Linked DNA regions of Homo sapiens. The protein of the gene in region 1 purifies or fractionates together with the protein of each later gene. This does not show direct contact. Each region holds a gene or a part of one and is shown in the gene's direction. Other genes may lie near its edges.

Region 1 (8,156 bases):
ACAGCACGCTAGCCTGGGTGACAGAGCGAGACTCTGTCTCAAAAAAAAAAAAAAAAAGGAATCACAGTATTTTTAAATTTCTACCATTATCATTCTATAAAATATGATTGAGATTACAGTGTGCACTTGATCTTAGCCAAAAGATCCAGAATGACAGCTCACACTTTATATTACAATTTGTATTCTACTTTTCCTGATATTTTGATTAAATTGTGCTATGTTTTCCCTATGACATTTCCCTATTACATTTCTTTGTAAACATCATTTTAAATAAGTGTACAGTGTTACATTGCAGGCATACCATAAGTTTAGCCATTTCCCTTTTGTAAGATACTGACCCTTTTCTAATTTTTTCTACAGTTTACATAAATTGTAAAAAAAATATATTGTGTGAATGTATTTTTAGTAATTCAGATATTCCTTCGGGTAGATTTCCATGAGTTGAATTTTTAGATCCAATAGATGTATTTTTTCTTTTTTAAATTATAAAATATTTTAATGTAGAGATAATTACATGACAAAGATCCCTAAATGCACCAACCGTCTTTTAAGGGATACACACCCTTTTATTTATATATTATGTCTGTAAGATTCATCCATTTTGTTGGTAGTAATTTGTTTGTTTTTTTTTTTTTTTTTTTGTGAGACAGGGTTTCACTCTGTGGCCCAGGCTGGAGTGCAGTGGCATGATCACGGCTCACTGCAGCCTGAACCTCCCACGCTCAAGTGATCCTCCTGCCTCAGCCTCCTGAGTAGCTAAGACTACAGGCACACACCACCCATGCCTGGCTAATTTTTGTATTTTTTGTAGAGAAGGGATTTTGCCATGTTGCCCAGGCTGGTCTCGAACTCCTGGGCTCAAGCGATTTGCCCACCTCAGCCTCCTCAAGTGCTAGGATTACAGGTGTGAGCCATTGTGCCTGGCCAGTAGTTTGGTCTTTTTCGTTGCTGTGCAGATTCAGTTGTATGAATATAGCATAATTTTTGTCCATTCTATTGTTGATAGACATTTGAGTTGTTTTCATTTCTTGTCATTATGAGTAAAGCTCTTAACATTGGTGGACACAAGTATGTATTTCTCTTAGGGATATATCCAGGAATAGAATTGCTGCCAGACAGAAAAATATATATGTATTTGTAGCTTTAGAGGGTATTGCCAGTCTTTTTTTATTTCTTTCTTTTTTATTTTGAGACAGTCTCACTCTGTCGCCCACGCTGGAATGCAGTGGCGCAATCTCAGTTCACTGCAATCTCTGCCTCCCGGGTTCAAGCGATTCTCCTGCCTCAGTCTCCTGAGTAGCTGGGATTACGGGCATGTGCCATCACGCCTGGCTAATTTTTGAATTTTTTTAGCACAGACGAGGTTTTGCCATGTTGGGCTGGTCTTGAACCCCTGACCTCAGGTGATCCGCCCACCTCAGCCTCCTAAAGTGCTAGGATTACAGGCGTGAGTCACCACGCCCAGCCATTATCTCTCATTTTCTAAAGTGGTAGTACCATTTTATACTCCGAACAGCAATAAATTGTAGTTACATTCTTACTAACTGCTAACTCATTTATTTACTAGCATCTGGACTAACATTTGGTATTGTCAGTCTTTTTAATTTTAGTCATTCTGGTAAGGGTGTAGTGCCCACCAGCCATCTCCAACAGATTTTAACATATATGCTTCAGATCTCTTTTAAGAAATATAAATTTAAATATTCATTAGTGAATCTAGTAAGGGATGTGTGTGCGTGTGTATATATATATATATTGTATATATACACACACATATACAAGAAAATAACATACATATTATATAAAATAACGTATATATACACATACTGTATATATACACACACAAACTATATATATATATGTGTGTGTGTGTGTATTTTGGAGACAGGGTCTCACTCTGTCATCTAGGTTGGAGTAGAGTGGTGTGGTCTTGCCTCACTGTAGCCTCGACCTCCCAGGCCCAAGCAGTCCTCCTACCTCAGCCTCCTGAGTATCTGGAATTATAGGTGTGTGCCACCACACCTGGTTAATGTTTTAATTTTTGTAGAGATGGAAAACTGCTTTGCTGCCCAGGCTGGTCTCGAACTCCTGAGCTCAAGGATTCCTCCCACCTTAGCCTCCCAAAGTGCTGGGATTATAGGCATGAGCCACCGCACCTGGCCAAGGTCTGTATTTTTCTTATTGTACTAAACTTGCAACTTTTCTGTAGATTTAAAAATTTTCAAAATACTGTAAATAGTTTAAAAATATATAAATTTTAGATATAGCTGAAACTAACTACTTACCCTTTCCCAGCCTCCTAAAGTAATTACTATCCTGAATGTAATGTTTATTGTTTTTTTTTTTTTTTTTTGAGACAGCGTCTCACTGTCACTGAGGCTGGAGTGCAGTGTCATGATCTCAGTTCACTGCAACCTCCGTCCCACGGGTTCAAGTGATTCTCCTGCCTCAACCTCCTGAGTAGCTGGAATTACAGGTGTGCGCCACCAGGCCCGGCTAATTTTTTTTTTTTTTTTTTTTTTTGTATTTTTAGTAGAGACGGGGTTTCAGCATGTTGGCCAGGCTGGTCTCGAACTCCTGACCTCAGACTAACCGCCCGCCTCAGCCTCCCAAAGTGCTGGGATTACAGGCGTGAGCCACTGTGCCTGGCCTGGTACAACTAATTTTAAAAGCAGGTTGACACTCTAGTCCAACTGGCAGATGTGCATACCCCATGCCATTGTAATTTTTCCCCCTAGAAAAACTCCTATTCAGTCGTACAGGGAAATGAGTATAAAAACATTTGCTGCTGCCATGTTTGTAATTGTGGACAATTGGGAATAATCTTTATACCTCATCAATGAAAAAATAGACCAATTATGGTTCATTCATGTAGAATACTATACAGTAGACTATGAACCAGAGTTACATGAATCAGAATTCGTATTTCTCAAAAGCATAATGTGGGCCGGGCACGGTGGCTCACGCCTGTAATCCTAGCACTTTGGCAGGCTGAGGCAGGTGGATCACTTGAGCCCAGGAATTCAAGACCAGCCTGAGCAACACAGTGAAAACCTGTCTCTATCTTTTTAAAAGGAAGAAAAGCATATTGTGGAACAACAACAGAAAAAAGCAACTTGCAGAATTATAAAGTATGATATCATTTGTATAAATTATAAGAAAATGTTAAATAGCGCTATTATATATAATTTGTAGAGTTATACATATATACCTGAGAACAATAAACATTACATTCATGCAGCCAGGCACAGTGGCTCATTCCTGTAGTCTCAGCACTTTGGGAGACCAAGGCGGGCAGATCACTTGAGCTCAGGAGTTCGAGACCAGCCTGGCCAACATGGTGAAACCACATCTCCATTAAAAATACAAAAAATTAGCTGGGCATGGTGGCACGCCTGTAGTCGCAGCTACTCAGGAGCTTGAACCCAGGAGGTGGAGGTTTCAGTGAGCCGAGACTATGCCACTGCACTCCAGCCTGGGTGACAGAGAGAAAAAAACAGTTGTACCAATTTATACTCCCACTAGCATTAGATAAAAGTTCAAATTATGCCAGGCATGGTGTCTCACATCTGTAACCCCAGCATTTTTGGACTCTGTCTCAAAAAAAAAATCCACATCTTTTACAACACATGATTGTTAGATTTTTTAGTTTTTGCCTATCGGATGATATATTCTTATTTACATTTTCATTTTCCTTATTACTAAGGGGGTTGAGCAGCTTCTCACATTAGGCCTTCCTCCTCTGCCCACATGACATGACTATTCATATTCTTTCCCTGTTTCCTACTGGGATATCATTTTCTTTTTTTCGTTTCTTTTCTTTTTTTGAGACGGAGTTTTCCTCTTGTTGCCCAGGCTGGAGTGCAATGGCATGATCTCGGATGACTGAAACCTCTGCCTCCCAGGTTCAAGCGATTCTCCTGCCTCAGCCTCCCGAGTAGCTGGAATTACAGGCCTGCGCCATCACAGCTGGCTAATTTTTGTATTTTCAGTAAAGATGGGGTTTCACCATGTTGGCCAGGCTAGTCTCAAACTCCTGGCCTCAAGTGATCCACCCACCTCGGCCTCCCAAAGTGCTGGGATTACAGGCATGAGCCATCGTGCCCAGGCACTGCCATGGTGTTTTTTGTTTGTTTGTTTGTTTGTTTTTAAAGATAAACCTCTGGGGTTTCTGGAAAGTAAAGCCCCATGCTCCAAACAGCTCTGCTATACCTGTGTGCAAAATATTTTCATCTCTCTCTCTCTCTCCCCAAAGTGCATGCAAACACATATGGAACTGACATAGGCATCCACTGTCGCACTTCAAATTAAACAGACGCACACGACAGATATTCTCACAGAAAAGCAGTCAGCCAAGCCCAGAACCCATAGATCTAGGTCCACACTCACGCCTCTGCATGCTCCCCAGAAAGACGGATGCATCGCCCGCAGGTAGAGACGGGCTCACCAATCCCACTCAAAACCCGCTGCCGGCTTACAGCTCGCAAGCCGCCCACAGTGCCAGCCCCATGCCAAGCATCACTAGGGGCTCTAGAATAGGCAGGGGCCTTGTTCTCACTTCCTTTGTGTTGCTTTTATTTTAGTTGTTTTGTTTGTTGTTTTTCTTAGAGTTATCACCTGCCCCTCTGTCTCCCTACCCAGCCCCCAAGCCTCCCCTCCAAGCCTCCACTGCGCATGTGCCGTGCATCCCTGCCCCTTCTGGGTACCCGTAGGCGCTCCCGGGCGCTGGCGGCGGCGGAGGAGAGGGAGCAGCGTCACGGGCGCCCGGCCCGTTAAAACGCTGCTGGCTGGAGCCACCTCCCTCCCTGCAGCCCGCAACGGGAATGGAGTAAAGGGAGACCCGTCGACCTGGCCACGGGGATCAGCGATGGAATTAAAGCAATCTTTGTCCACCCATCTGGAAGCCGAGAAGCCTCTGAGGCGCTATGGGGCGGTGGAGGAGACGGCTTGGAAAACGGAGAGACTGGGGAGAAGTGAGTACTGGGGCGGGGGGCGGGGGGCCGGGGACAGCTGGGGATCCATGCGCCTGCGCGGGTGGTCGCGGGAGCGCGAGGAACGCCAGCAGTGGACCCAGGGAAGCGCCCCCGCAGCGGGGCTGGCAGCTCAGGGGGATACGCAGCTCTGCGCAGCGACGCGCTCTCCCCGCGAACAAAAGGGGGGGACCCTCCGGGCTGAGCCTCACTGGGAGGGTTGGGAGATGGCCAGGCAGCTAAGGCAGGAGCCTGGGCTCGACTTAGGAGTCCCGGATCCGTCAGCTCGCAGCTGGTCCTGTGAAGTCGGGTCTCTCCCACAGCCCAGGGAGGAGGATCCTCTCTCCGCCTGGGATGCGCCAGGGCGCTGGAGACGCGGGACCGTCCTGGAAAGCGCCCACGTCCCTGGAGAGGGGGGAGTGTCTGCTGGTTTTCCGCTTGCTTTCCTACCCCCTGCGTGAGGTTTCGGAGCGCACCTGAAATTCCCAGCTTTTCCTCCCTCGCCTTCCTTGGGTCGGGGTGGGAGGCTTGGGGCGGCAAAAGGGTCAAAAGGCACACACCGTTCTCTTTTCTCTCTTGACTCAGTTAAAGTCTGCTTGGGCACAACTCTAGAAGGCAGTTTCGAAATAGACCGGCTGTATTTATTTACTGGTTCTCTCTGCGGTGTTTGGATGTCAACATTTCTAAGTAAACGAAGGATTTTGTTTTTCATTAATAGGATACAATAGTTGAAACTCCTGCCCTCAAAGTGTAGAGGCAGCGTCAGGGGCTCCAGGGTCACTGGAGGTCCCTGCAAACCCGGGGGCTCCCCAAAGCCGCTGCTCTCACATGGCTTGCCCACCAGGCTGGGAAGGAGAGGTCCTTCTCAGGGACCCGGCAGCTTCCTGCCTCGGCTCTGGGTCACTGCTCCGCGCTCTGCCCCAGCACGGATCTCTGAGCGATGTAGGGCTAAAGTATTGTGAATGTGATCTTATTCTGTCCTCACCTGGTGGAAAATTGTGTGTGCGCGCTTTCTTTCTCTATACCTGTAATTATGGATTTAGAAAATCTTCCTAGAAGGGCTCAACTGTGTTCTGATTCTGACGGGTTGAAGTTGAAATCACAATCCAATGTCTTAGTGGTTCATGGGCTAGGATGGATGTCATAGCACTGCCAACCTCTTTCCTTTTCTTTTTTTTTCTCCCTTTTTAACCTTGGTCTTTCTTTCTAGTTCATCCTTTCAAGACCCAATGACTTGGTGCTTTGGCATAATATCAGGGCGTCAGGGCTGAGGGTCTCTGTTTCTTTCTTTAATTTTTAAGTGCACATAGTGGGTGTCCATATTTATGGAATACATGAGATATTTTGATACAGGCATACAATGTGTAATAATCACATCAGGGTAAACGGGGTATCCAAAACCTCAAGCATTTATCCTTTTTTTTGTGTTACAAACAATCCAATTACACTCCTTTTTTAAAAAAGCCCAGCTGTGTGACTAATTATACTCTTTTAGTTTAGCTTTTTTTTTTTTTTTTTTGAGACGGAGTTTCGCTCTTGTTGCCCAGACTGGAGTGCAATGACACAATCTCGGCTCACTGCGACCTCCACTTCCTGGGTTCAAGCGATTCTCCTGCCTCAGCCTCCAGAGTAGCTGAGATTACAGGTGCTCGCCACCATGCCTGGCTAACTTTTGTATTTTTAGTAGAGATGGGGTTTCACCATGTTGGGCAGGCTGGTCCCGAACTCCTGACCTCAGGTGATCGGCCTGCCCTGGCCTCCCAAAGTGCCGGGATTACAGGTGTGAGGCACCCCACCTGCCCTCTTTTAGTTATTTTTAAATGTACAATAAATTGTTGACTGTAGTCATCGTGTTGTGCTATCAGATACTAGATCTTATTCATTCTATCTACCTATATTTTTGTACCCATTAACCATCTCTGTGTCCCCCCATCCCAATACCCTCCCCAGCCTCTGGTAACCATCATTCTACTCTGTATCTCCATGAGGGTCTCTTGTTTCTTACAAGCTCAAAATAATCTCAACAATGGCTGCCTTTTATTGCTAGATGACCATGTGCTGAGAACTCTAAATGCATCATTTCATTTAGTCCCCTCAACAACCTCCTGCAGTACTAAGATTTATAAATTTAAATCTTGCCTAGATTTAAAAAAACATTTTAAAATAAAAATTTTAAAACAAAACATTTTAAAATAAAAAATTTAAATATAAATTTAAAATCTTGCATAGATTTAAAAAAACAAAACAAAACTGGGACTTGTTAGGTGATCTGACAGTTAAGTGGCAGAACCAGGATTTGAACCCCGGTCTGTTGGACCCCAGAGCCTGCTTTTAACATGAAGGTTTATTGCTTTCATGGTTTCAGAAAACTTCCTAAGTCTATTGAGATAGTCACAGAACATGCTCAGTGATTTTATAATTATGTGGCAGCCCTGTTGCTCTCTGAAGCTCACAGAGGCCTTAAAAAAATGCTGGGTCCACGCAGAATGGAAGCTGTTCACAAGAGTGCTGCTTTGAATCCTCACTCTGTGCCTTGCTGGCTATGTGACTTTAGGAGTATTGCTAAGCCTCACTCTGCCTTCATTTTCTGAAAATAGAGATTATGTCTTTATTGTGTATACTAAATAAGATGATACATATAGTACTCAAGGTTAAGTGCTCAATACGTATTGTTCACTTCCATTCGGTTACTGCACAACATTTATAGACAGAACCTGCTTTTACTCTTTGCAAGGAATTATGTAAATATTGGTCAATTCTTCAATAATGCCCTTGTAGCTTTTTATATCTTAACATTTTATGAGAAAAAATTTGAAACATGCAGGAAAATTGCAGCAAGCACCCAATTTACAGCAGTTTCAATCCTGAAATTTTTGTACTTCTGGGTCCTATGCTGCACACTGTTAAAAGTCAGGTATAAGGCCAGGCGCATTGGCTCACGCCTGCAATCCCAGCACTTTGGGAGGCCGAGGCGGGCGGATCACAAGGTCAGGAGATCAAGACCATCCTGGCTAACACGGTGAAACCCCATCTATACTAGAAATACAAAAAATTAGCTGGGTGTGGCAGTGGGCGCCTATTGTCCCAGCTGCCGGGGAGGCTGACACAGGAGAATGGCGTGAACCTGGGAGGCGGAGCTTGCAGTGAGCCGAGATTGCACCACTGCACTCCAGCCTGGGTGACAGA
Region 2 (7,000 bases), on another chromosome or scaffold:
TTATACAAATTGCTAGTTAAAGAACAGGCACCCGCCATTCTAAGCAATAGTTTCTCTTCACTGAATGTCTGAGTTTGGCTACGAGTTACTGCTAAGGCTACAGCGTATGACTACAAAAACTGTTTTTGCCAATTTCTAACTCATTGCCTTGTAAAAGTACTCTGAAATTTTCTTCAACATTAAAGTTTGTGGAAAATCAAGGATTGTTTCTCATAGTACATGTGACACACAGACATACTGTCTTCTTTTAGTTTCAGCCGACTTTTCAGCTCCTCAAGTAACACGACTAAGAAGCCTGAACCACCTGTTAATCTGAAGTACAATGCACCCACGTCTCATGTTACTCCGTCCGTCAAGAAAAGAAGCAGCACCTTATCTCAGCTCCCTGGGGATAAGTCCAAAGCCTTTGATTTCCTTAGTGAAGAGTAAGTCTTTTCCAAATTAATCATTATATTCTAAATTAAGTTAGTGGTTCAGAATATTCTTGGCCTCTTATCAGCTCTAAGGATTCAGGTAAATCTATAAAAAAATCATTTCTGGGCCAGGCACGGTGGCTCACACCTGTAATCCCAGCACTTTGGGAGACCGAGGTGGGCGGATCACAAGGTCAGGAGTTCGAGACCAGTCTGGCCAATATGGTGAAACCCCATCTCTACTAAAAATACAAAAATTAGCTGGGCGTGGTGGTGTGTGGCTGTAATCACAGCTACTTGGGAGGCTGAGGCAGAAGAATCGCTTGAACCCAGGAGGCGGGGTTGCAGTGAGCCGAGATCATGCCATTGCTCTAGCCTGGGTGACAGAGTGAGATTCCATCTTTAAAAAAAAAAAAAAAAAAAAAAAAAAAAATCATTTCTGTAACTTGGCTGTCTTTAAGTAAATTACTTGTAGTCAAAAGTTTTTATGAAAATTGCTTTTCAGTTTTTATAAAAGAGAAGGATTTTTTTTTAAATGCCTCATTTTTGCTGGTATGACAACATTGATAAATACCTATTAATAGAAATGTGAATGGCCTTTAGAGGTAAATGAGCCTTTATCCTAAATGTTTGAACATTTCTGTTGGTGTCAGAGGACTTGGTTTTCCATCCTGACTTTACTACTCATTAGGTACAAACACTTGGGCAAATTAACCTTTCAGAGCCCCCAGTTTCTCTGTCTGTAAAATTAATCTGATAACCTATCTCAAAGGTGATTGGACCCAATTATACAGTTATCTGTAAAGTATCTGACATATAGGTAGATATGTTAACTGTGGTATATATACATAGCAACTCATCTTATGAAAATTTAAATGGCCAAAATAATGGCAAATTATTTTCAAAATCATTTTAATAATATTTTACCTTATAACTCCAAAGTTTACCAAATCAGTTTGCATTTTTATTTTCTGAAACAAGTTAATGGGATCTAAAATCTAACCTATATCAATCTTCCTAAGCAGATATTGATTTACTCAAGTTTTAAATCACTTCTAGCACGTTTTCTGGCATTAGGATATTCTCAGTAAATATTTGTTGAATGAACAACAACAACAAAAAAGCCAAACATACTTAAGAATTTTCCCCTTTCATATGGCCAGCATCTGAAACCTGATATAAATTTGGTGGCTGATGATTCAATTTAATGTAACAAAGCTGCTTGGTAACCTGTTAAAGCTTAGGCACTGAATTCACTGCACAAACTTAAAAAGACCAGCTTTAGTATAACACTTTGTTTGTTTGTTTGTTTGTTTTTTGAGATGGAGTTTTGCTCTTGTCCCCCAGGCTGGAGTGCAGTGGCACCATCTTGGCTCACTGCAACCTCCACCGGGTTCAAATGATTCTCCTGCCTCAGCCTCCCAAGTAGCTGGGATTATAGGTCCGCACTACCGTGCCTGGCTAATTTTTGTATTTTTAGCAGAGACGGGGTTTTACCATGTTGGCCAGGCTGCTCTCGAACTCCTGACCTCAGGCTATCTGCCCTCCTCGGCCTCCCAAAGTGTTGGGATTACAGGCATGAGCCACCGTGCCCGGCCTATTATAACACTTTTTAAGGAGCTGTTATAGTTGAAATAAACTAATTTGAAATCATGTAAATTTTTGTTGTTTTTGCTGTTTTAGTGACAGAGGAGAGATAAAACTGGGGATAAACGTAATTAAACGTATTCATGTAATTAGGAAAATCTTTTTTCCTTTTAGAACTGAAGCTAGTTTAGCCTCACGCAGAGAACAAAAGAGAGAGCAGTATCGTCAGGTAAAAGCACATGTTCAGAAGGAAGACGGTAGAGTGCAGGCTTTTGGCTGGAGTCTGCCTCAGAAGTACAAACAGGTAATATGCACATGTGGTAAGAGCATCCAGCAGGAAAGAAGAGGGCAAGTTGAGTGTGCGTGGGCATGAAGGATTCACTGTACGCATCCCAGCCCTGCTCATCTCAGCCGCATGGACTGGGCACACATTTAAGCATGGAGGGTGGTGGTTTTCAGGCTGTTTTCTAGAGCTGTAGAACTCAAATGAAATGCTCTGAGTCTGTGAGGGGGGGAGGAGTCAATAAAGGGTGGCTAAGTGCATGGAGTTTGAGGTACCCGCTCTGCTGTAACCAGAGCAATTCTGGTTTAATATTTGAAGATTTCATTTTTTAAAAAACCAGCATCATTGTTGAAAAAATTATTGGCATGGAACTTTTCAAACTGTTCATTTAAAATTAAGTTCAGGTCTTCAGGAATTTTATCTGTCTACTCCATAATTCCTACCCCAAAAGACTCACATGTTCATGTACAAACACATATGCATGTGCACGTGTGCACATATGTGTGAATTAGAGCCTCTTTTTGAGCTCCCATTATATCCTGTTTATTGAATTGCTCAACTTGATTTTTCTGTTTTTCAAATAAGAATGGCAAAATTGGCTGATGCCTGTCATTGGCTCATGGTGCCTGTTATTGACTCATGCCTATAATCCTAACACTTTGGGAGGCCAAGGTGGAGGATGGCTTGAGCTCAGGGAGTTTGAGACCAGCCTAGGCAACATAGCATGACCTCATCTCTACAAAAAATTTAAAAAATTAGCTGGGTGTGGTGGCCTGTGCCTGTAGTCCCAGCTACCTTGGAGGCTGAGGTGGGAGGGGACCGCTTAAGCCTGACAGATTGAGGCTGCAGTGAGCCATGATCAAGCCACTGCACTCTAGCCTGGGCAGTAGAGCGACCCTGTCTCAAAAAAACAAAAAAACAAAAAACCTGAACTTGATTTCAAGGAGTAAATAACAGCAGTGCTTGCTCATGTCTCAGTGGATCTGTAATAAGTTCACTTTTGATGAGGCTTACTAATGTGCCTTTTTCACTCCTCCTTCCACCATTATTAGGTAACCAATGGTCAAGGTGAAAATAAGATGAAAAATTTACCTGTGCCTGTCTATCTCAGACCTCTGGATGAAAAAGATACATCAATGAAGGTAAGTTCATTGTGAATTAAAAGGAGATGTTTTCTAAACTCTGGGTAGTTTTTTTTCTAAAACCAAAAAAGTATAAGTATTACTTCTATGGTGAGGTTATTGTTCATTTTATAATATTAGGTTATAAGACCTGTATTTACAACCATTAGTTATTTTAAGAAAACATGAAAATGCTAAACATTTCTAGACTTAATATTGTTTTCTTTTTCACCTGAGAAGCTGTGGTGTGCTGTTGGAGTCAATTTATCTGGTGGGAAGACCAGAGATGGTGGTTCTGTTGTTGGAGCAAGTGTATTTTACAAGGATGTTGCTGGTTTGGATACAGAAGGCAGTAAACAGCGAAGTGCCTCTCAGAGTAGTTTAGATAAGTTAGATCAGGAACTTAAGGTAAGTGTGTGTACTAACATTTGACCTGGTTTATGAGACTATGAGTTTAACTCTTTCATCCAAAATTTGCCTCTGGGTCCAGCTTCTAATTGGGATTACTATGCCCTGGCTTACTGTCCCTCAGCACCCTTTTAAAATCAATTTTAAAATATTGAGGTATAATTTACATGCAATAAAGTGTGCACTCGAAATGGGTATAGGTCAGAGTTTTGACACATGTGTACACGTATGTAATCACTACAGTGATCAAGCTAATGGAACATTTTATCATTGTTCTGCTTTACCTGTTAGTTTTGTGTTGCTGTTTAGAGACAGAGTCTCACTCTATCACATAGGCTGGAGTGCAGTGGCATGATCATGGCTCACTGCAGTGTTAACCTCCTGGACTCAAGTGATCTGTCCACTTCAGCCACCCAAGTAGCTGGGACTACACACCCACACCACCACACCTGGCTAATTTTATTTTTTGTAGAGACGAGGGTTTCACTGTGTTGACCAGGCTAGTCTCACACTTCTGGCCTCAAGCAGTCCTCCCACCTCAGCCTCCCAAAGTGCTGGGATTACAGACGTGAGCCACTGTGCCAGCCTAACTGCTAGTTTTTCATCTACTAATTAATATTGATAGGTGGTTGTATTAGTCTATATTCACACTGCTGATAAACACATACCCGAGACTGGGAAGGAAAAAAGAGGTTTAATTGGGCTTACATAGGTAACCTCTGGGGAGGCCTCAGAATCATGACAGGAGATGAAAGGCACTTCTTACATGGTGGCAGCAAGAGAAAATGAGGAAGAAGCAAAAGTGTAAACCCCTAATAAACCCATCAGATCTCGTGAGACTTATTCACTATCACGAGAATAGCATGGGAAAGACTGGCCCCCATGATTAAATTACCTCCCCCTGGGTCCCTCTCACAACATGTGGGAATTCGGGGAGATACAATTCAAGTTGAGTTTTGGGTAGGGACGCAGCCAAACCACATCAGTGGTTGTATTTTTACCCTTCCAAATAATCTGGAAATAAATTTGAAATAGTATTGCCTTTTACTGTAACAGCACCACCTTATGAATATTTGTACATACATATTGTTTTAAACATTTTTCCTCCTTTGCCTATACAGGAACAGCAGAAGGAGTTAAAAAATCAAGAAGAATTATCCAGTCTAGTTTGGATCTGTACCAGCACTCATTCGGCTACAAAAGTTCTTATTATTGATGCTGTTCAACCTGGCAACATCCTAGACAGTTTCACTGTTTGCAACTCTCATGTTCTGTGCATTGCAAGTGTGCCAGGTAAGAGTGAGTCATGCGTTTCTCTGCCCTCCCCTCCATCCACCTACCTGCTGGGCACTGATGTAGCAGCTGAAGATGCAGTTCTGCACCTTGCTGTCATGAAGCTTATGTTCTAGTTAGGGAAGATTAAAAAACAAACTGGAAACCATTGAATAAAGAAGATATTTTCAGGTAGTGAAAAATACTGTGAAGAAAATAAAACAATGGGAATATGAGAAAATAACTGGGAGCCAGAGGACTGTTTGGATTAATTAATAAGGAAAGGTCTTCTAAAGTTTTGGATTAAACATTATGTGATGTTAAAACATTAGTTTAAAAATTAAAGAAGTGTATGTGATATATCCATATGTTGGAATATTATTCAGCCATAAAAAGGAATGAAGTTCTTTTTTATATTTTATTGTGGAATACTTAATATGAGTTCTACTTTTTTTTTTTTTTTTTTTTTGAGACAGAGTCTTACTCTGTCACCCAGGCTGGAGTGCAATGGCATGATCTCGGCTCACTGCAACCTCCACCTTCCAGGTTCAAGTGATTCTCCTGCCTCAGCCTCCCGAGTAGCTGGAATTACAGGCACCTGCCACCACGCCCGGCTAATTGTTTGCATTTTTACTAGAGACGGGGTTTTACCATGTTGGTCAGGCTAGTCTTTTTTTTTTTTTTTTTTTGAGATGGAGTCTTACTCTGTCACTCACACTGGAGTGCAGTGGCACCGTCTCGGCTTACTGCAACCTCTACCTCCTGGGTTCAAGTGATTCTTTTGCCTTAGCCTCCCAAGTAGCTGGGACTACAGGCACGAGCCACTACACCCGGCTAATTTTTGTATTTTTGGTAGAAATGGGGTGTCACCATATTGGCCAGGTTGGTCTCGAACTCCTAGACCTCGTGATCTGCCCGCCTCGGTCTCCCAAAGTGCTGAGATTACAGGTGTGACCCACCACCCCGGGCAGTCAGATTAGTCTTGAACTCCTGACCTCAGGTGATCCACCCGCTTCGTCCTCCCGAAGTACTGGGATTACAGGCATGAGCCACTGAACCCAGCCTGAGATCTACCCTCTTAACACATTTTTGTTTTTGTTTTTTTGAGACAGGGCCTCACTCTGTTGCCCAGGCTGGATTGCAGTGGTGCAGTCACAACTCATTGTACTCATTGCAGCCATGACCTTCCGGGCTCAAGTGATCCTCCCAGCTCAGCCTCCCAAGTAGCTGGGACCACAGGCGCACACTACCACACCTGGCTAAGTTGTTTGTACTTTTTGTAGGCAGGGTTTCACCATGTTGCCCAGGCTGGTCTGGAACTCCTGGGCTCAAGTGATCTGCCTGCCTTGGCCTCCCGAAGTATTGGGATGCCCAGCCCTCTTAACAAATTTTTAAGAGTACAATACATTATCCTCTAGGTAGAAGTTCTGACACATGTTATAACACAGATGAACCTTGGAAACACTATGCCAAAGGAAATAAGTCGGACACAAAAGGACAAATATTATATGATTCCGCTTATATGAGATATCTAGAATAGGCACATTCATAAAAACATAGAGTTTCTGTGTGAGGTGATGGAAAAGCTTTAGAAATAGGCCGGCCATGGAGGTTCACACTCATAATCCCAGCACTTTCAGAGGCCAAGGTGGGACGATCACTTGAGCCCAGAAGTTTGAGACCAGTCTGGGCAATATAGTGAGACCTCATTCCACAAAAAATCAAAAAATGAGGCGGGAGGATAACTTGAGTCGGGGAGGTCAAGACTGCAGTGAGCTACGATTGCACCACTACACACCCACCTGGGCAATGGGAGTAAGACCCTGTGTTTTAAAAAAAAAAAAAAAAAAAAAAAAAAAAAGACCTGGCATGGTGGCTTACACCTGTAATCCAGACACTTTGGGAGGCTGAGGTGG
Region 3 (7,543 bases), on another chromosome or scaffold:
AACCAGCTGCCACATCTACTGGGACAAGAGGCCTGCAGTTCCATAAAATTCAGCAACAAAAAGAGGGGTCTTTCAACTTGTGACGTTGACAGTCTTTAGATAAGTGGTTCTCAGTGTTTTTTCCCACCCAGTCATAGGGGGTTATGTGGCCTATGCAGGGATTCTCAGTGGGGAAGGGGACTGAAGTCCTGTGGATGGGAAAACTGTACTTGGATGAGGCCTGCTAGGTGATCTCATCACCTGCCCCTCTTGGGGGGATTACTGCTTTAAATACAGTATGGAAAAATCCATGATGACTCAAGTTAGCAAGCTTGGAAGTATAAAAATGATCTTCAGGAATTCTGAATTAAAGAAAACATCACTGTAGTTGGAAAATACTTCACATTACTGTTGGCCGAGAGCTCACGGTGGATTAAATTGGTAAAACTCTTGAATTACTGTGCTTTTGCAACTCAGAAAGTGGTTCAGAAACTGGACATTTTTCAGGGTACCGAAGCATTTATTTTCTGGATGTTTACACTATGAAAATAACAATAGAGGCCAGGCACTGTGGCTCGCGCCTGTAATCCCAGCACTTTGGGAGGCCAAGGTGGGCGGATCACGAGGTCAGGAGATCCAGACCATCCTGTGAATGGTGAAACCCCGTCTCTACTAAAAATACAAAAAATTAGCCGGGCGTGGTGGCAGGTGCCTGTAGTCCCAGCTACTCGGGAGACTGAGTCGGGAGAATGGCGTGAACCCAGGAGGCAGAGCTTGCAGTAAGCCAAGATCGCGCCACCGCACTCCAGTCTGGGCAGCAGAGTGAGATTCCGTCTCAAAAAAAAAAAAAAAAAATTAAAATAACAATAGAAACTAACTGGTCAAATTGGAGTCAGTTTTCCCTTTCCATGAGCCCAGTCTAGGACGCTTTCAGGGTTTTTGAATCCTGAAGTCTGACTTTAGGTTAAGTTGAGTTACTTGTCCTCAGGTTTGCCTCTCAGCCCAATTAAGACAGTCACCCCTACCCATCCAATTAAAAAGAAACATGATAAAACCACAAATGTGAGCCTGTACTCCTAGCACTGTAATCCCAGCACTTTGGGAGGCCAAGGAAGGTGGATCACTTGAGGTCAGGAGTTCAAGACCAGCCTGGCCAACATGGTGAAACCCCATCTCTACTAAAAATAACAAAAATTAGCTGGGCATGGCGGTGTGTGCCTGTAATCCCAGCTATTTGAGAGGCTGAGGCAGGAGAATCACTTGAACCAGAGAGGCAGAGGTTGCAGTAAGCCTGGGTGACAGAGTGAGACTCTGTCTCCAAAAAAAAAGAAAAAACAAAAAAAACCACGTATGCGTATATATGCCATACAAACTATATGAACCATTCGAGTTTTTTCCCATGATGATTACTACAATGGTTTTTAAAAAATTATATTTCCAAATAAGAGTACTCCAACTACTCGGTTTTGGTGCCCAGCTTGGTTGCACTCAGCGGCTACAAGGTAAACCCACCCCTTGTATGGCACTCACCCGTAAACGGCATATCTCAGAGGCCCACCGACATCCAGACTTCTAGAGTTTTCTTTTTTCCGCTTCTTCTCAATCATCTGGGCCAGGAAGTTCCCAAGTGCTGACAAAATGCCACTGTGGAGAGGGAGGTCATCAGAAAACAGCAGTGACCAGCAGGAGGGTGTCCCTTTCCCATAGGTGAATTAGCAGGGCCGTTCTGAGGCCATGCAGCAGATGGGCGGGGGGTAGGAATTCTTGTTAAAGCGGCTGCAATGTATAGTTCTTGTATCAAAAGGTGGAGACGGTGGACTTAAACACACAGGTAAGGACAAGTGGCTTTCCAGTATCTATGTCAACATCCTGGCTGTGATGTTATACTATAATTTGGCAGTTTGGGAGTTGGGAAGCTGTGTGGTTATGAACGGGCAACAGGACAGCCCTATCATGACGCTGTTCTGCATTTTGACTGTGGTAGTGAACACAAGAATGTACAGATGTGATAAAACTGTACAGAACAGATACAGCTACAAGAAAAATGGAGAAATCCGAATAGGATCTGTGGACTGTGTCCACGCAATGCCCTGGTCGATACTGCACTACGTTTCACAGAATGTAACCAATGGGGGACACTGGGAAGGTGTGCAAGGAATCTCTCCATGTTAGTCTTGTAACTGTTTGTGAATCTACAATTATCACAATAAAAATTTCCATAAAAAGGTGGAACAGGCCCAGTGGCTCCCTCCAGGCCTTGGTTTGTATTTGCCTTCTGAGAAGCTCTCTGGACTATAAAATCCAAAATTCCTAGCACGGACCTAGACACCTTCTCGATCAGATCCCTGGCGATTCCCTTCACATCTCCTGCCTCTTGCTCAGGGTTCACTTTCTCCACACACAGATCTTCCCTCCCTCGGGACTGAGTCCAAGCTGCACCTCTCTCCGCCTTTCTTTAACGCCGGCCTTCCCTTCAAAACCTAACAGAGACCTTTGCCCTGCTGTTCCCTGTGCCAGGAGAGCCTCTGCTCCACTTCTTTACACAGCCTGTTCAATGTCACCTTCTCAAAACACCTTCCCTGGCCGTGTCTCCACCCGCGCCGTGCGGACCCGCGCCCCGCAGACTCGCTCCCTTGGCCCTGTCTCCACACGCTCCATGTGGACCCGCTCCCCTGGCCCTGTCTTCACCCGCACCACGCAGACCCGCTCCCTTGGCCCTGTCTTTACCCGTGCCCCGCAGACCCGCTCCCCTCGCCCTGTCTTCACCCGCGCCCCGCAGACCCGCTCCCTTGGCCCTGTCTTCACCCGCGCCCCGCAGACCCGCTCCCTTGGCCCTGTCTCCACCCGCGCCATGAGGACCCGCTCCCCTGGCCCTGTCTTTACCCGCGCCCCCAAGACCCGCTCCCCTGGCGCTGTCTTCACCCGCGCCCCGCAGACTCGCTCCCTTGGCCCTGTCTCCACACGCTCCATGAGGACCCGCTCCCCTGGCCCTGTCTTCACCCGTGCCCCGCAGACCCGCTCCCCTGGCCCTGTCTTCACCCGCGCCCCCAAGACCCGCTCCCCTCGCCCTGTCTTCACCCGTGCCCCGCAGACCCGCTCCCCTGGCCCTGTCTTCACCCGCGCCCCCAAGACCCGCTCCCCTCGCCCTGTCTTCACCCGTGCCCCGCAGACCCGCTCCCCTGGCCCTGTCTTCACCCGCGCCCCCAAGACCCGCTCCCCTCGCCCTGTCTTCACCCGTGCCCCGCAGACCCGCTCCCCTGGCCCTGTCTTCACCCGCACCACGCAGACCCGCTCCCTTGGCCCTGTCTTTACCCGTGCCCCGCAGACCCGCTCCCCTCGCCCTGTCTTCACCCGCGCCCCGCAGACCCGCTCCCTTGGCCCTGTCTTCACCCGCGCCCCGCAGACCCGCTCCCTTGGCCCTGTCTCCACCCGCGCCATGAGGACCCGCTCCCCTGGCCCTGTCTTTACCCGCGCCCCCAAGACCCGCTCCCCTGGCGCTGTCTTCACCCGCGCCCCGCAGACTCGCTCCCTTGGCCCTGTCTCCACACGCTCCATGAGGACCCGCTCCCCTGGCCCTGTCTTCACCCGTGCCCCGCAGACCCGCTCCCCTGGCCCTGTCTTCACCCGCGCCCCGCAGACCCGCTCCCCTCGCCCTGTCTTCACCCGCGCCCCCAAGACCCGCTCCCCTCGCCCTGTCTTCACCCGCGCCCCGCAGACCCGCTCCCCTCGCCCTGTCTTCACCCGCGCCCCGCAGACCCGCTCCCCTCGCCCTGTCTTCACCCGCGCCTGCGGACCCGCTCCCCTTGCCGTGGCTTCCCCGGGCGCGCGGGGCCCCTGTTGGGTCCTTGGGTGGAACCTCAGCGCCGACCCCCGGGTCTGGGCGGGCCCTCCACGCGCTGGGAGGGCGGGATCCGCAAGGCGCCTCACAATCGCTGACTGCGGACGCGGGTGTCGCCGCGGGAAGTTCAGCGCCGGGTCGGAGGGCGCCCGCTCCGGGGGTTCTGACCCGGGCGCGCCCCCAGCCTGGTCCCGGCCCGGCGCTCCCGTCCAGGCCCCGCGCCGCTGCGGCCGACCTGGGGCCGGGGCGGCGTCCGATTCCCGCGCCCCCGCTCACCTGGTGGCCGCCTTGGTGAGCACCGGGTAGAGCCGCAGGAAGAGCAGGTACTGGGCGAGCGCCCGCCGCGGCAGCGCCCCGAGCCCGGCTTCGGCCCGCAGCCTGGACGCGGCCGGCGCCATCGCCTCCCCAGCGCCGTGCCGCCGGGGGCACCGACCCCACCTCAGGCTGGCCGGGCGCGGAGCCCGAGGCGCCGAGAGCGGAGTGGGGACCGCCTGACATTTCCGGCCCCACCGCGGCCCGCAGCGCCGCCCGGTCCCAACCCCACGGTGCGCCGCGCGCGCCTACCACACACTTTTCCCCGGTCCCTGCCGGCCACCTCCCCCGCCGGGCGCCGGCGCCAATTGGAGCGCCTCGGGGGGCGGGGGAGGGGCGGAGCGCGCCTCTTGATGGACGGCGGCATTTCCGGCTCTCGCGAGTCTGGGTGGGAGCGCGCCAAATTTCTCCCCTGAAGCAGAGGTGGTAGCCAACGGCTCCATGTCTCTGAGGAGCGGCGGGCGGCGGCGCGCGGACCCAGGCGCGGATGGCGAGGCCAGCAGGTGAGGGGCGCCCTCCTGAGGCTCTCGGGCCGGCCCTCCGGAGGGTGCCATGGGGCCGTCCTCGGCTGGCGCCGCCGAGGCGGGAGGGAGGCCCGGTTCCCGCAGCCGCCCGCACTCGCCGCGCCTGACTGGGGTAGGGCGGCGCGCCCCGACCGCCGACGGAGGGGCTCGGGGCGGGCGGAGGCGCTACGGGCGCGGCTTCTTTGCGGGGAAACGAGGCGGGCCGCGCGGCCTTTCCCTGCTCGGCTCTTTCTGAGGTTTTTCGGGCCTCGCCTTCCGCGCAGCTGCGTTTGGGACCTGCCGCGCGGCGGGGGCGATGAGAGCGGCGGGACCCGGGCCAGGCCCTGCGGGGTGGACGCGCGGCTGGGGAGGGTGCGGGGAGGGGCGGGGCCGGGGACCCTGCCTGGGGGCCTAGCGCTGGGGGAGGCCGAGGCGGGCGGATCGCTGGAGCCCAGGATCCTGTTCTAGATCAGCCTGGGCTACAGAGAGAGACCTCGTCTCCTCTGTTTTATTTTTTTGGGCAGGGAGTCCCGCTCTGTCGCCCAGGCTGGAGTGCAGTGGCGCGATCTCGGCTCACTGCAACCTCTGCTTCCCGGGTTCAAGCGATCCCGCTGCCTCAGCCTCCCGAGTAGCTGGAATTACAGGCGCCCGCCACCAGGCCCGGCTAGTTTTTGTATTTTTAGTAGAGACCGGGTTTCACCATGTTGGCCAGGCTGGTCTCGAACTCCTGACCTCAGGTGATCCGCCCGCCTCGGCCTTCCAAAGTGCTGGGATTACAGACGTGAGACTCCGCGCCCGGCCCTTCTCTTGTAAAAACAAGAAAAATTAGACAGGCTGGTGGTGCGCGCCCGAGGTCCCAGCTATTAATACTCCCGAATCCGAGCCGGAGGTTCACCTGAGCCCGGCAGGTCAAGGCTGCTGTGAGCCGGGATCGCGCCACCGCACTCCAGCCTGGGCGACGGAGCCAGACCCAGTCTCAAAAAAAATAGAGCAAGGATAAGACGCGGCTGCTTGGTGGCCAGAGCAAACGGTAAACATGACCGGAGGACTGGCCTGCCATAAGCAGAAAACGGATGAGGCCCGGCGCGGTGGCTCACACCTGTAATCCCAGCACTTTGGGAGGCCGAGGCAGGAGGATCACCTGAGGTCAGGAGTTCGAGACCAGCCTGACCAACATGGAGAAATCCCGTCTCCACTAAAAAAATACAAAATTAGCGGGGCGTGGTGGCGCATGCCTGTAATCCCAGCTACGCAGGAGGCTGAGGCAGGAGAATCACTTGAACGCGGCAGGCGGAGGTTGCGGTGAACCGAGATCGCGCCATTGCACTCCAGGCTGGGCAACAAAGAATGAAACTCTGTCTCAAAAAAAAAAAAATAGAAAAAACGTGTGAGAACGTGAAGCTTTTTACAGACACTTAGCTGAACAAAATTCTTCCCAGAGGAGAAACCAAGTGGTAAGGATCCCTAACTGCTGTTGTGCTCATCGCTGTCTGTCCATATCAGGCAAGCCCTAGAGAGGCAGGTACCCTTAGGGTCTACATGGTGTGTTGGAACTTGGAGCTTAGAGACGGTTACTGACTGCCCTGCTTCAGGACACAGGACTGCACTCACGTGCTCCACTCCACTGCCCTGCCCCAAGCTCAGTGATGGCCTCCAGGCAGGGGGAAGGCTGCTGCTGGGATAAGTACAAGTGATGGCTTTTACCTTACATGCTTTATGTGGGTTACCTCATCTCATCCTTAAAACAGTCCTGGGAGGTGAGTGTGCCCCAGGAGGCAGTGGGTGCTGTTTGCCTGCGTTTCTTCTTGTGTGAAATGGGGACACCAGTGGCCTCCCTCGTAGGGGTTGTCATGAAAACTGAATGAGAGCATATGTGGAGTACTGGGACGGTGTGATACAGTAACCAGTCAATGGTAGCTCTCTGTGAATGAGAGCCTGTGTGGAGTACTGGGACAGTGTGATACAGTAACCAGTCAATGGTAGCTCTCTGTGAATGAGAGCCTGTGTGTAGTACTGGGACGGTGTGATACAGTAACCAGTCAATGGTAGCTCTGTGAATGAAAGCCTGTGTGGAGTACTGGGACGGTGTGATATAGTAACCAGTCAATGGTAGCTCTCTGTGAATGAGAGCCTGTGTGGAGTACTGGGACGGTGTGATATAGTAACCAGTCAATGGTAGCTCTGTGAATGAGAGCCTGTGGAGTACTGGGATTGTGTGATACAGTAACCAGTCAATGGTAGCTCTCTGTGAATGAGAGCCTGTGTGGAGTACTGGGACGGTGTGATACAGTAACCAGTCAATGGTAGCTCTCTGTGAATGAGAGCCTGTGTGGAGTACTGGGACGGTGTGATATAGTAACCAGTCAATGGTAGCTCTCTGTGAATGAGAGCCTGTGTGGAGTACTGGGACGGTGTGATATAGTAACCAGTCAATGGTAGCTCTGTGAATGAGAGCCTGTGTGGAGTACTGGGACGGTGTGATACAGTAACCAGTCAATGGTAGCTCTCTGTGAATGAGAGCCTGTGTGGAGTACTGGGACGGTGTGATACAGTAACCAGTCAATGGTAGCTCTCTGTGAATGAGAGCCTGTGTGGAGTACTGGGACGGTGTGATACAGTAACCAGTCAATGGTAGCTCTCTGTGAATGAGAGCCTGTGTGGAGTACTGGGACGGTGTGATACAGTAACCAGTCAATGGTAGCTCTCTGTGAATGAGAGCCTGTGTGGAGTACTGGGACGGTGTGATATAGTAACCAGTCAATGGTAGCTCTGTGAATGAGAGCCTGTGTGGAGTACTGGGACGGTGTGATATAGTAACCAGTCAATGGTAGCTCTGTGAATGAGAGCCTGTGTGGAGTACTGGGACGGTGTGATACAGTAACCAGTCAATGGTAGCTCTCTGTGAATGAGA

The links. The genes of interacting proteins can lie anywhere in the genome.
Region 2: the proteins of BMERB1 (region 1) and SPAG9 purify together in Homo sapiens (affinity purification with mass spectrometry; 2 studies listed by BioGRID and IntAct, with this or other methods). This does not show direct contact.
Region 3: the proteins of BMERB1 (region 1) and POLE purify together in Homo sapiens (affinity purification with mass spectrometry; 2 studies listed by BioGRID and IntAct, with this or other methods). This does not show direct contact.

What each region holds. Positions count from the first base shown.
Region 1 is NC_000016.10:15,429,787-15,437,942, forward strand, and holds the start of BMERB1 (bMERB domain-containing protein 1), read left to right. Parts: upstream 1-4,801; 5' UTR 4,802-4,867; coding exon 4,868-4,973; intron 4,974-8,156.
Region 2 is NC_000017.11:50,991,869-50,998,868, reverse strand, and holds part of SPAG9 (C-Jun-amino-terminal kinase-interacting protein 4), read left to right. Parts: intron 1-251; coding exon 252-425; intron 426-2,174; coding exon 2,175-2,304; intron 2,305-3,335; coding exon 3,336-3,425; intron 3,426-3,644; coding exon 3,645-3,812; intron 3,813-4,933; coding exon 4,934-5,105; intron 5,106-7,000. UniProt on the Homo sapiens protein: The JNK-interacting protein (JIP) group of scaffold proteins selectively mediates JNK signaling by aggregating specific components of the MAPK cascade to form a functional JNK signaling module.
Region 3 is NC_000012.12:132,684,343-132,691,885, reverse strand, and holds the start of POLE (DNA polymerase epsilon catalytic subunit A), read left to right. Parts: upstream 1-4,543; 5' UTR 4,544-4,570; coding exon 4,571-4,632; intron 4,633-7,543. Other genes in the region: PXMP2 (peroxisomal membrane protein 2), read right to left, coding at 1,510-1,623, 4,094-4,215. UniProt on the Homo sapiens protein: Catalytic component of the DNA polymerase epsilon complex. Participates in chromosomal DNA replication.